Homo sapiens: one gene and its partners. The protein of the gene in region 1 interacts with the protein of each later gene in a pairwise test. Each region holds a gene or a part of one and is shown in the gene's direction. Other genes may lie near its edges.

Region 1 (3,649 bases):
GCAGATGCACCGTGAAGACATCACACTCAGGGAGAGAGGCCAGACACAAAAGGACGCACAGCATGTGATCCCATTTCTTTTTTTTCTTTTTTGAGATGGAGTCTCGCTCTGTCGCCCAGGCTGGAGTGCAGTGGCGTGATCTCGGCTCACTGCAACCTCTGACTCCCTGGTTCAAGCAATTCTCCTGCCTCAGCCTTCTGAGTAGCTGGGACTACAGAAGCCTACCACCACGCCCGGCTAATTTTTGTATTTCTAGTAGAGACAGGTTTCACTGTGTTGGCCAGGATGGTCTTGGTCTCCTGATCTTGCGATCCGCCTGCGTCGGCCTCCCAAAGTGCTGGGATTATAAGCATGAGCCACCGCGCCCGGGCTTATATTTTTAAAGCGTAAGCTTTGTGGCATGTAAATTATATCTCAATAAAACTGTTTAGGGAAACACACGCTGATACCCATCTTCCCCCCACGCCCTCCTGAATTGGGATCTCGGGGGCGGGAGTGGGTTTCTGTCTTCAGGGCTCTCAGTTCTAGGATAGCAGCTGGGGTTTTTACCGTCCTACCAGCTGGGACCCATGCCTCAGATAGAAGCCCCATTGCCTATGAAATGAGAAGGTATCACATGAGTATTCCAAAATACAGGCCTCCACTTGGGCTCTTTCCAAAAGCAATAGCGAAAGGGACAGTTTCCGTCCCCGGGCCGGTGAGCTGTATTAACTGTTCTGCTCCCGGGGTCGCCATCCAGGCAGTGACAGCCACCGTCGCCAGGCACAGGCCAGGCCAGGCCCTGCCGCCCCCACCTCCATCCCCCTTAGTGGATGTAGATATGATTGTTTGCGACTAGCGAACCCCCTATAGATGCAGATGCCTCCTGAGCCGGCATCTGTGTTGAGTCCTGGCTGCCCAGAAGAGCCAAGTGTGACGCCCCCTCGGGTCTGTGTGGACACCAGGCCGGTGTTTTCCTCTCTCCCTGACACCCCCTCCGGTCTGTGTGGACACCGGGCCGGTGTTTTCCTCTCTCCCTGTAGGAAACGAGCAGATGAAAGTGGAAAACTTTGAAGCTGCCGTGCATTTCTACGGAAAAGCCATCGAGCTCAACCCAGCCAACGCCGTCTATTTCTGCAACAGGTACCAGCTCAGGGCCTGCCCAGGGCAGGGGCGGCCGGGTGCGGGGGCGTCCTCCGGGATGCTTAGCAGGGACCTGAGATGGGAGAGGCCTCTGCGCTGTAGATGAGGGATCCATTCACCGGTGGTCTCAGACCAGGAGCGAGCATCAGGTGACCAGCAACGGGGTCGGGGAGAGTCGATGCTGATTTAAAATCAGGTAGCACGCCCAGCACTCTGGGAGGCCATGGGGGAAAGATCACTTGAGGCTAGGAGTTCGGGACTAGCCTGGGCAACATATCAAGACCCCCGTCTCTACAGAAAATGTAAAAATTAGTCTGGGGGCCAGGCGCGGTGGCTCACGTCTGTAATTCCAGCACTTTGGGAGGCTGAGGCGGGGGGGATCACTTGAGGTTGAGAGTTCAAGACCAGCCTGGCTAACATGGTGAAACCCCGTCTTTACTAAAAATACAAAATTAGCCGGGTGTAGTGGTGGGCACCACCAGTTACTCAAGAGGCTGAGGTATGAGGATGGTTTGAACCTGGGAGGCAGAGGTTGCAGTGAGCCAAGATTGCGCCACTGCCCTCCATCTTGGGTGACAGGGAGACTCTGTCTCAAAAAAACCCCGAAAAAAACCACAAAAATTAGCTGGATGTGGTGGTGGGTGCCTGTAGTCCCAGCTACCTGGGAGGCTGAGGCAGGAAAATCACTTGAACCCGGGAGGCAGAGGTTGCAGTGAGCTGAGATCGTGTCACTGCACTCCAGCCTGGGCAGCAGAGCAAAACCCTGTTTCAAAAATAATAAATACATAAATACATACATAGAAAATCAGGTATCATGGCATTCCACGTGGATGTCAAGCCAAGAAAATAATCCAGTATGTGGAGGGTTGTGTTTTTTGAATGTGTGGTCTTGGATCTGCTTCAGGCTTACAGGACAGTTGCAGAGGCAGTGCAGGGTTCCTGGCCGCCTGTCATGGGGTAGTTTAGTCTCCACTCACTCTTCTCTGTACTTTGAAAAAATTGTAAAGAGAAACACTAAACACGAAAATGGTGAAGACGATTCAGACGCTGTAAGCCAAGAGCTTTGAGCTTTGACATTGGTCTGAGTTCTTTTTTTACTGATATGTAAATAATTTGTGAATGAAACTTGGGTATAAGTTCCCTACCCTCATTGCTCTTGTACAGCCATGGATCGGAACATTTTTTGCAAATAAAATTCAGAGTCGCAGTCCTGAGTGGCTGCTGGTGCTTTGAGCCCACATTTGTCTAAGAGCATCTCAGTGGCCACACCTCTCAGCTTTCCCCATCAGCCCCATTTTACAGATGGGGAAAACTGAGGCCGTTCCTCCAGGAAGTTGGAGAGGAACGCAGCTCTCAGGCTCCCCTCAAGGGCTGCCCGCTGGGCTCAGAGCCGCCAGTGAGGGACCTGCCCTGCCTTTTCTTCCCCAGAGCCGCAGCCTACAGCAAACTCGGCAACTACGCAGGCGCGGTGCAGGACTGTGAGCGGGCCATCTGCATTGACCCGGCCTACAGCAAGGCCTACGGCAGGATGGGGTGAGTGCCTGTCCACGGCCGCGCCTTTCCAGTCTCTCGGGACCCCTCCTCTCCTGCTCCTGCTTCCTCTCTTGTGTGGCTTTTTTCCCACCCACAACGAATTCTCCCACCCCGGTTCAGTTCAACTCTGACACTAGCTGTTCGGAGCCAACGTAGTCCCTACAGGTCACAGGCTCAGCCCCACAGACGCCCCGCATCAGGTGCCACCCGGAGATCCCTGGGCCCCTTGCTTCTCCCTGACTGGCTGTCACCTGGGGTTCCCATGGCTCCTACTCAGGCTCCATTGTTTGCTGGGGCGGCTCACAGAGCTCAGGGAAGCACCTGGTTTATGATGAAGGACACAGGACAGGTCCGAGAGTGAGGCCAGGAGGGTCCCCGGGGCAGGAGCCTGCGCCCCGTGCAGCCGGTGCCGCCCTCCCAGCATAAGCGTGCATTCGCCTGCTTCTCTGAATGCCCTTGCTCAGAGTTTGTGGGATTGGGTCTCCCCAGAGGCTGGGGAGGGGCCCTGTTCAACTGCCCAGTCTCCCCAGGACCCGCCTCCTCCTGGGCTCTGTAGGGGCCCTGAGTCACCTCACGAGTGAAGACTCACTCAGGTGGGGGTCAGGGGCTGCTTGTGGATGACGGGAGACATGTCTGTCGCTCAGAGGTTCCGAGGGTCCTTGGTGCCCTGTGCCGGGAAGCGGGGCCAAGACAACATCCACGCATTTCCTGTGACCCTGAGCTGGCCCGCTCCCTCCTCTCAGCCCGCTCTGGGCTTTGAGGCCCTGTGTGTGGCCCCATGGGGACTCCAGTTCTTGTGTGGCAGGGGTGTTCTCATGTCTGTCTCCCTCAGTCCTGCCCCTGGGCCCCTCGAAAGCCAGGTTTGTCTCCACTGAGCTGACAGCGGGCAGGGGGTGGCACCATCCGAGGTGGTTTGGGGGTTGCCAGGACCGCCGGGGACGAGGGCTTTGGCGGGGCCTCCTGGAGCTGGGCAGATGGGAACAGTCCATCCCCG
Region 2 (3,649 bases), on another chromosome or scaffold:
TGACACATGGCAAGCAGGAGAGGAGAGTTGTTAGCTACATCTTCCCCTTCTATCTAGAAATTTGGATAGATGTTTCTTCCAGAATCCCTTGCACCATCTGGGGAGCCATCTTGAAAGTAACATGGGGAAGCTGATCCTTTCCCAGGGCAGCAGCATGAGGGAGCCTAGGGAAAGGATTTGGGAGGAAGGGGGAAAATGTTATTGAAATTTGTTAGGAGAGCAGCCATATGCAACTTGGAATTTGATCAGTCTTGATTTGACACCCTCCTCCTGCAGCTAGTGCCTGGGTGTCTTGAATGGTCCCAGATGGCTGAGGTCTCAGTTTAGCATCTTGCCATAGAGAACAGTGTGTGAGCTTACTGCACTCCTCACTTTGTGCTTGTGGGATGCCAGCTGGGTCATGAGGGCAGCCTGAGCTGGATGATCTGAGGACCTGTGCACACATCTGCAGTGGGGCCCACAGGGCAGAGGAGCGGGAACTTTGCATGATGACCCCTGTCTGTAGCTTATTGCTTTGAGGCCTTTGCCTGAGTTCTCACTGATGTGATCAGTTACGGGCACCAAAGTGAAAGTTAAGCACTGAGAACAGGACAAGGAGGCTGGAATCAAGCAACAAGATTTGGAATCCTATAATTCCAAAGTGAGCTCAGAGGGTCATCTGCATTGCTGCTGTTCCTGAGCAGCTCATTAGAAACATATTCTGGGACCTGCTACAGAGATTCTGATTCACAGCGTGCAACTTTAAACTCTTGTTACATGTTCATCAGGGCTTGAGAACATGATGTGCAGGTTGGTCTGAACCCAAAGGTATAGTCAAAAGTGTCTACAGGGCAGTGTCAGAGATGGGGCCACACAGCATGCTTAGGGACCCCAGAGGCCTCAGTTCAGGTTGCCTCCTCTGCCCAGGCACTTTTCCTCTCTCATTGTGGGCACAGGTACCTTCTCTGCATGTCCCAGGGATTAGAGCATTTGTTGCCAAGGCCCTCTGAGGTCAGGGCAGGGTTGGAATGTATCAAGAACAAGATGAATCAGAGGCAGGTCAGCTGAGTGGAGTAATGATGGAACAGGGGTTCTGCAAAACATCCCTGAACGATCTTGTCATGCCCTTTCTAGAACTTTGATAATGGTGATTCTCGCCTGGACTCCAGTGAATTCCTGAAGTTTGTGGAACAGAATGAAACTGCCATCAATATTACAACGTATCCAGACCAGGAGAACAACAAGTTGCTTAGGTGAGAGGAACCGAGAGGTCAGAGAATGATCCACAAGGGAAGACTAACTGAGAGAGGGGACTTAAACCCTTTCCCACCTGCAAAAGAGCCACCAGTGAGAGAATGTCACGTAAAAAGCAAAATGGGAATTCTGTCCTGTTCTATTCTATGAAAGTATGAATTAATATATTGAGTACCACTGATATCTAATCAAATAGTTATTGTTTTTGGTCAGAACTTGCAAGGACTAGAAGAATATAATTTTAAAATAAATTGCCAAGGGCACGTCAGAGCAAGTTATTTCTGAATGTTGTGGGTGATGTTTTACTGATTAATTTTCTGAAGGAATTACAGTAATGTATTATTTAACTATAGGTCTAAAATAGCTTTGTTCTGATTTTTAGATAATTAGTGCTATTTCATGTCAATTGCCCTAACTGTTACAGATATATGCCCGTCTACTTTTATGGCATTATTCCAGAATCAATATTAATAAAAACTAATCGCTAAGAAACTTTTGATGTGGTTTCAGCACATCGGTAAGAATTAAAAATAGGAAAAGCATGTCTTTTTTTCAAAAGAAGTGCATTGCACAGTTTCTAGAAGGATTCTTCTTTAATAATAGTCTATGACCTTAAAGTATAGGTTCTGTAAATCCTTCATATTTTGATAATCTGAAATTATATGTTTTATAATTTCAACGTTTGAGCCTCATGATATCCCAGTGAAGGAGGGCTTCTTGTCCTCCTTTTACGGATGGGAAGACAGGCTCAGAAAAGTTGAATAACTAACTCAAGTCCATTTGAGTAGTAAGTGATTGAGCCAGGGCTCAAATACAGCCCAAGAAAGAAGTGATGGAGCTGAGTTTTTTTTTGTTTGTTTTGTTTTTTGTTTTTTTTTGTTTTTGTTTTTGTTTTGTTTTGTTTTTGTTTTTTTTTTTTTTTTTTTTTTTTGAGACGGAGTCTCGCTCTGTCGCCCAGGCTGGAGTGCAGTGGCGGGATCTCGGCTCACTGCAAGCTGATGGAGCTGAGTTCTAAAAGCTTTTCTGAAAATCTCTTTCTAGAAGGATGATAATGGTGATTCTTGCTTGAACTTCATATTCTTTCAAATCCTATATTCCTTTCATGTCATCTGTCATATCTCTTCTGTTTTGATTTTCCTAGTTTGGTTGACTTGACGTGTATATACCATGGGGAAAAGCAATTGCTAGTGGAAGGTATGCAGGCAGTGAAAACATTAGACAAAACCATTCACGAAACTTTAGTCATCTTAAGGGGGGGAACATTTGGACAGCCTGGGTGATCTGACATTCATATAACAAACTAAAGGTTAGATGCCTGCATTGGTCAGGATGGATAATAGTTGTGTTGGGTCAGTGTAGAGAGAGGCTGTTTTAGTTAGCAGTCATCTTCTTGGCCTCCTGTGGAGGCCCTGGGTGTATGTGGTCCTGATGCTTACTTCCTTTCTTCTGAGCGAAGCTGAGGTCTTGCTAACACATTTCTCCTGTGTTTTGTTTCAGGGGACTCTGTGTTGATGCTCTCATTGAACTGTCTGATGAAAATGCTGATTGGAAACTCAGCTTCCAAGAGTTTCTCAAGTGCCTCAACCCATCTTTCAACCCTCCTGAGAAGAGTATGCCTAACCTAAGAAATAGAGAGCTGTAGTGAATGGAGGCATTTTGTAGGAGCCAAGATAGAGAGGATTGGTGGAACTCTCCAGAGCTAGCTGAGAAAATCCCCTTCCATGATTCTAAACTGGGCCCCAGCCCATTCTCCCCATGGTGAAGTTAGGGCCCCACATTCTTTAGGTTGATGGTAGTGTTTGCTCAGATATAGTGCTTCTGAGGGACAGGCAGGTCTTGTCTGGGAAAAAAGGGTAAGGTGCACAGACTGTAGCAAAGATGCCCTGTTCCACCCTCACAGCTAAACTGTTGCCCCGTATTTCTGGCCCAACAGAGTGTGCCCTGGAGGATGAAACGTATGCAGATGGAGCTGAGACCGAGGTGGACTGTAACCGCTGTGTCTGTGCCTGTGGAAATTGGGTCTGTACAGCCATGACCTGTGACGGTGAGCTGTGCTTCAAGCAGAAAGAAAAAACAGCAAGGAGAGAGCTTCATGAAATCAGCATGAGAGAAGTTGGGGTGGGGATGATGGAGAAGAGGGCGGTGGCTGGGAGCAAGGAACCCAGGCAGACCCACACCTGTAAGGTTGGAGCCCCAAGTGGGGAGCTTTGAGGGCAGAACATTTATCCCATAGGCATTCAGTTTGAAAATCACTCCAGAGGCTTGGAATAAGAGAGGACCAAGACCCTGGGCAAAAGTAAATGATAATGGAATAGTAACATTATGGAAATAGTAACAGTGAAAGTAGTAATAATGGAATAATAATTAAAAATAGTAATTATTTAATAATTAAAACATTAAAATAAAAACAATAATT
Region 3 (3,749 bases), on another chromosome or scaffold:
CTTATTAGGAACTCTTTTTCTCTGTGGAGTTAGCAGCACAAGGGCAATCCCGTTTCTTTTAACAGGAAGAAAACATTCCTAAGAGTAAAGCCAAACAGATTCAAGCCTAGGTCTTGCTGACTATATGATTGGTTTTTTGAAAAATCATTTCAGCGATGTTTACTATCTGATTCAGAAAATGAGACTAGTACCCTTTGGTCAGCTGTAAACAAACACCCATTTGTAAATGTCTCAAGTTCAGGCTTAACTGCAGAACCAATCAAATAAGAATAGAATCTTTAGAGCAAACTGTGTTTCTCCACTCTGGAGGTGAGTCTGCCAGGGCAGTTTGGAAATATTTACTTCACAAGTATTGACACTGTTGTTGGTATTAACAACATAAAGTTGCTCAAAGGCAATCATTATTTCAAGTGGCTTAAAGTTACTTCTGACAGTTTTGGTATATTTATTGGCTATTGCCATTTGCTTTTTGTTTTTTCTCTTTGGGTTTATTAATGTAAAGCAGGGATTATTAACCTACAGTCCAGAAAGCCTGTGAATTTGAATGAGGAAAAAATTACATTTTTGTTTTTACCACCTTCTAACTAAATTTAACATTTTATTCCATTGCGAATAGAGCCATAAACTCAAAGTGGTAATAACAGTACCTGTGATTTTGTCATTACCAATAGAAATCACAGACATTTTATACTATATTACAGTTGTTGCAGATACGTTGTAAGTGAAATATTTATACTCAAAACTACTTTGAAATTAGACCTCCTGCTGGATCTTGTTTTTAACATATTAATAAAACATGTTTAAAATTTTGATATTTTGATAATCATATTTCATTATCATTTGTTTCCTTTGTAATCTATATTTTATATATTTGAAAACATCTTTCTGAGAAGAGTTCCCCAGATTTCACCAATGAGGTTCTTGGCATGCACACACACAGAGTAAGAACTGATTTAGAGGCTAACATTGACATTGGTGCCTGAGATGCAAGACTGAAATTAGAAAGTTCTCCCAAAGATACACAGTTGTTTTAAAGCTAGGGGTGAGGGGGGAAATCTGCCGCTTCTATAGGAATGCTCTCCCTGGAGCCTGGTAGGGTGCTGTCCTTGTGTTCTGGCTGGCTGTTATTTTTCTCTGTCCCTGCTACGTCTTAAAGGACTTGTTTGGATCTCCAGTTCCTAGCATAGTGCCTGGCACAGTGCAGGTTCTCAATGAGTTTGCAGAGTGAATGGAAATATAAACTAGAAATATATCCTTGTTGAAATCAGCACACCAGTAGTCCTGGTGTAAGTGTGTGTACGTGTGTGTGTGTGTGTGTGTGTGTGTAAAACCAGGTGGAGATATAGGAACTATTATTGGGGTATGGGTGCATAAATTGGGATGTTCTTTTTAAAAAGAAACTCCAAACAGACTTCTGGAAGGTTATTTTCTAAGAATCTTGCTGGCAGCGTGAAGGCAACCCCCCTGTGCACAGCCCCACCCAGCCTCACGTGGCCACCTCTGTCTTCCCCCATGAAGGGCTGGCTCCCCAGTATATATAAACCTCTCTGGAGCTCGGGCATGAGCCAGCAAGGCCACCCATCCAGGCACCTCTCAGCACAGCAGAGCTTTCCAGAGGAAGCCTCACCAAGCCTCTGCAATGAGGTTCTTCTGTGCACGTTGCTGCAGCTTTGGGCCTGAGATGCCAGCTGTCCAGCTGCTGCTTCTGGCCTGCCTGGTGTGGGATGTGGGGGCCAGGACAGCTCAGCTCAGGAAGGCCAATGACCAGAGTGGCCGATGCCAGTATACCTTCAGTGTGGCCAGTCCCAATGAATCCAGCTGCCCAGAGCAGAGCCAGGCCATGTCAGTCATCCATAACTTACAGAGAGACAGCAGCACCCAACGCTTAGACCTGGAGGCCACCAAAGCTCGACTCAGCTCCCTGGAGAGCCTCCTCCACCAATTGACCTTGGACCAGGCTGCCAGGCCCCAGGAGACCCAGGAGGGGCTGCAGAGGGAGCTGGGCACCCTGAGGCGGGAGCGGGACCAGCTGGAAACCCAAACCAGAGAGTTGGAGACTGCCTACAGCAACCTCCTCCGAGACAAGTCAGTTCTGGAGGAAGAGAAGAAGCGACTAAGGCAAGAAAATGAGAATCTGGCCAGGAGGTTGGAAAGCAGCAGCCAGGAGGTAGCAAGGCTGAGAAGGGGCCAGTGTCCCCAGACCCGAGACACTGCTCGGGCTGTGCCACCAGGCTCCAGAGAAGGTAAGAATGCAGAGTGGGGGGACTCTGAGTTCAGCAGGTGATATGGCTCGTAGTGACCTGCTACAGGCGCTCCAGGCCTCCCTGCCTGCCCTTTCTCCTAGAGACTGCACAGCTAGCACAAGACAGATGAATTAAGGAAAGCACAGCGATCACCTTCAAGTATTACTAGTAATTTAGCTCCTGAGAGCTTCATTTAGATTAGTGGTTCAGAGTTCTTGTGCCCCTCCATGTCAGTTTTCACAGTCCATAGCAAAAGGAGAAATAAAAGGACCGGGTGAGATGTGTCTGCATATGAGCAGTAGAAAGTTGTCAATTGTCCCTTTTGAAAAACTATCCTTTTTTGAACCTTTGCTCAGATTGTTATTTGTACCTTTTGATGTTAAAATGACCTTTATTTATGAAATTACAATAGATTTGGGAAATGATAATAAGTGGTAAGTTTTTGTTTATTTTTAAATGTTCTTCCCTGGCAAAATAAAGAGATGGCACCTCTCTGTCAGTTTTCTTAATATGTTGTTCTGAAAGTTTTCTTACTCAGTCCAATCTGAGAACCTCTGCTTTTAAGTCATCAGACAAATTCTTGAGATGGCTTTTTCTGAGAGGCTCTTCTGTTCATCCTGGTCCCTTCTTGCCTAAAGGTGAGTCTGTGTGTGTGTGGGGGGGGTGCGGGGGTGAGGTGTTGGGGGAGGTCTTCTTATTAGCTGGGAAGATGGTATTTGTGTCACTTTTTGTGAAAGTGGGCTCCCAAATATTCCCTGTTGAGGAAGTGTTCTAATCATGAGGAAATAAGCAAGCAAATCCAGTTGTTGGACAATTAGTTTGGACTGGTCAAAGATGTCAGTGCCAAGGAAGAAAGAAAAAAGGGGTGGGGAAGGGCTTGTTCTATATTAAAGAGACTAAAGAAATGTGTTAACCAAATGTAGTGCATGAGTCTTGATTGGTGTCTTCATCCAAGGGGGAAAAAGGCTATGAGGAACAGGTTTGGGATAACTGAGGCAATTTGACTGCTCATTATTATGTTACTGTATTAATGTTCAGTTTCTTGGTGAGATAATGATACTGTGGTTGCGAAGGATAAAATCTTTGTTCTATGGAGATACATGCTTAAGTACCCAGGGTGAGGCGTCAGGATGTCTGCAATTTGCTCTCAAATGGTTGAAGAAAGACTGCAAATATATAGATAATGAGAGAAAGAAAGGTAAAACAACTGTGGCAAAATATTAATAACTGGTGAATTACAAACTGGTGAATCTAAGTATATGGGGAGCTTATTGTACTATTCTTTCAGTTTTTCTATAGGCTTGAAAAGCTTTAAAATTATGAGAAAATATTTCCTAAAAAGAGCCTTCTACGTGAAAGGCAAGCTCTTCATAGCTATGGGGTTAGAAAACCTAAGAGCCAGAGCCTGGGGATGACCTTGGGCAAGTTATTGAACCCTCTGCATCTTCATTTCTTGTCCATAACATAACAAAGAAAATTCCTGCTGTGAATAATTTTTGTGGGGTT

Evidence for each region.
Region 2: the proteins of SGTA (region 1) and FSTL1 interact in binary tests that used the Homo sapiens proteins (3 or more experiments, as listed by UniProt).
Region 3: the proteins of SGTA (region 1) and MYOC interact in binary tests that used the Homo sapiens proteins (3 or more experiments, as listed by UniProt).

Annotation. Positions count from the first base shown.
Region 1 is NC_000019.10:2,762,659-2,766,307, reverse strand, and holds part of SGTA (small glutamine-rich tetratricopeptide repeat-containing protein alpha), read left to right. Parts: intron 1-1,022; coding exon 1,023-1,122; intron 1,123-2,550; coding exon 2,551-2,655; intron 2,656-3,649. UniProt on the Homo sapiens protein: Co-chaperone that binds misfolded and hydrophobic patches-containing client proteins in the cytosol. Mediates their targeting to the endoplasmic reticulum but also regulates their sorting to the proteasome when targeting fails.
Region 2 is NC_000003.12:120,402,436-120,406,084, reverse strand, and holds part of FSTL1 (follistatin-related protein 1 precursor), read left to right. Parts: intron 1-1,113; coding exon 1,114-1,232; intron 1,233-2,730; coding exon 2,731-2,843; intron 2,844-3,166; coding exon 3,167-3,277; intron 3,278-3,649.
Region 3 is NC_000001.11:171,650,502-171,654,250, reverse strand, and holds the start of MYOC (myocilin precursor), read left to right. Parts: upstream 1-1,562; 5' UTR 1,563-1,639; coding exon 1,640-2,243; intron 2,244-3,749. UniProt on the Homo sapiens protein: Secreted glycoprotein regulating the activation of different signaling pathways in adjacent cells to control different processes including cell adhesion, cell-matrix adhesion, cytoskeleton organization and cell migration.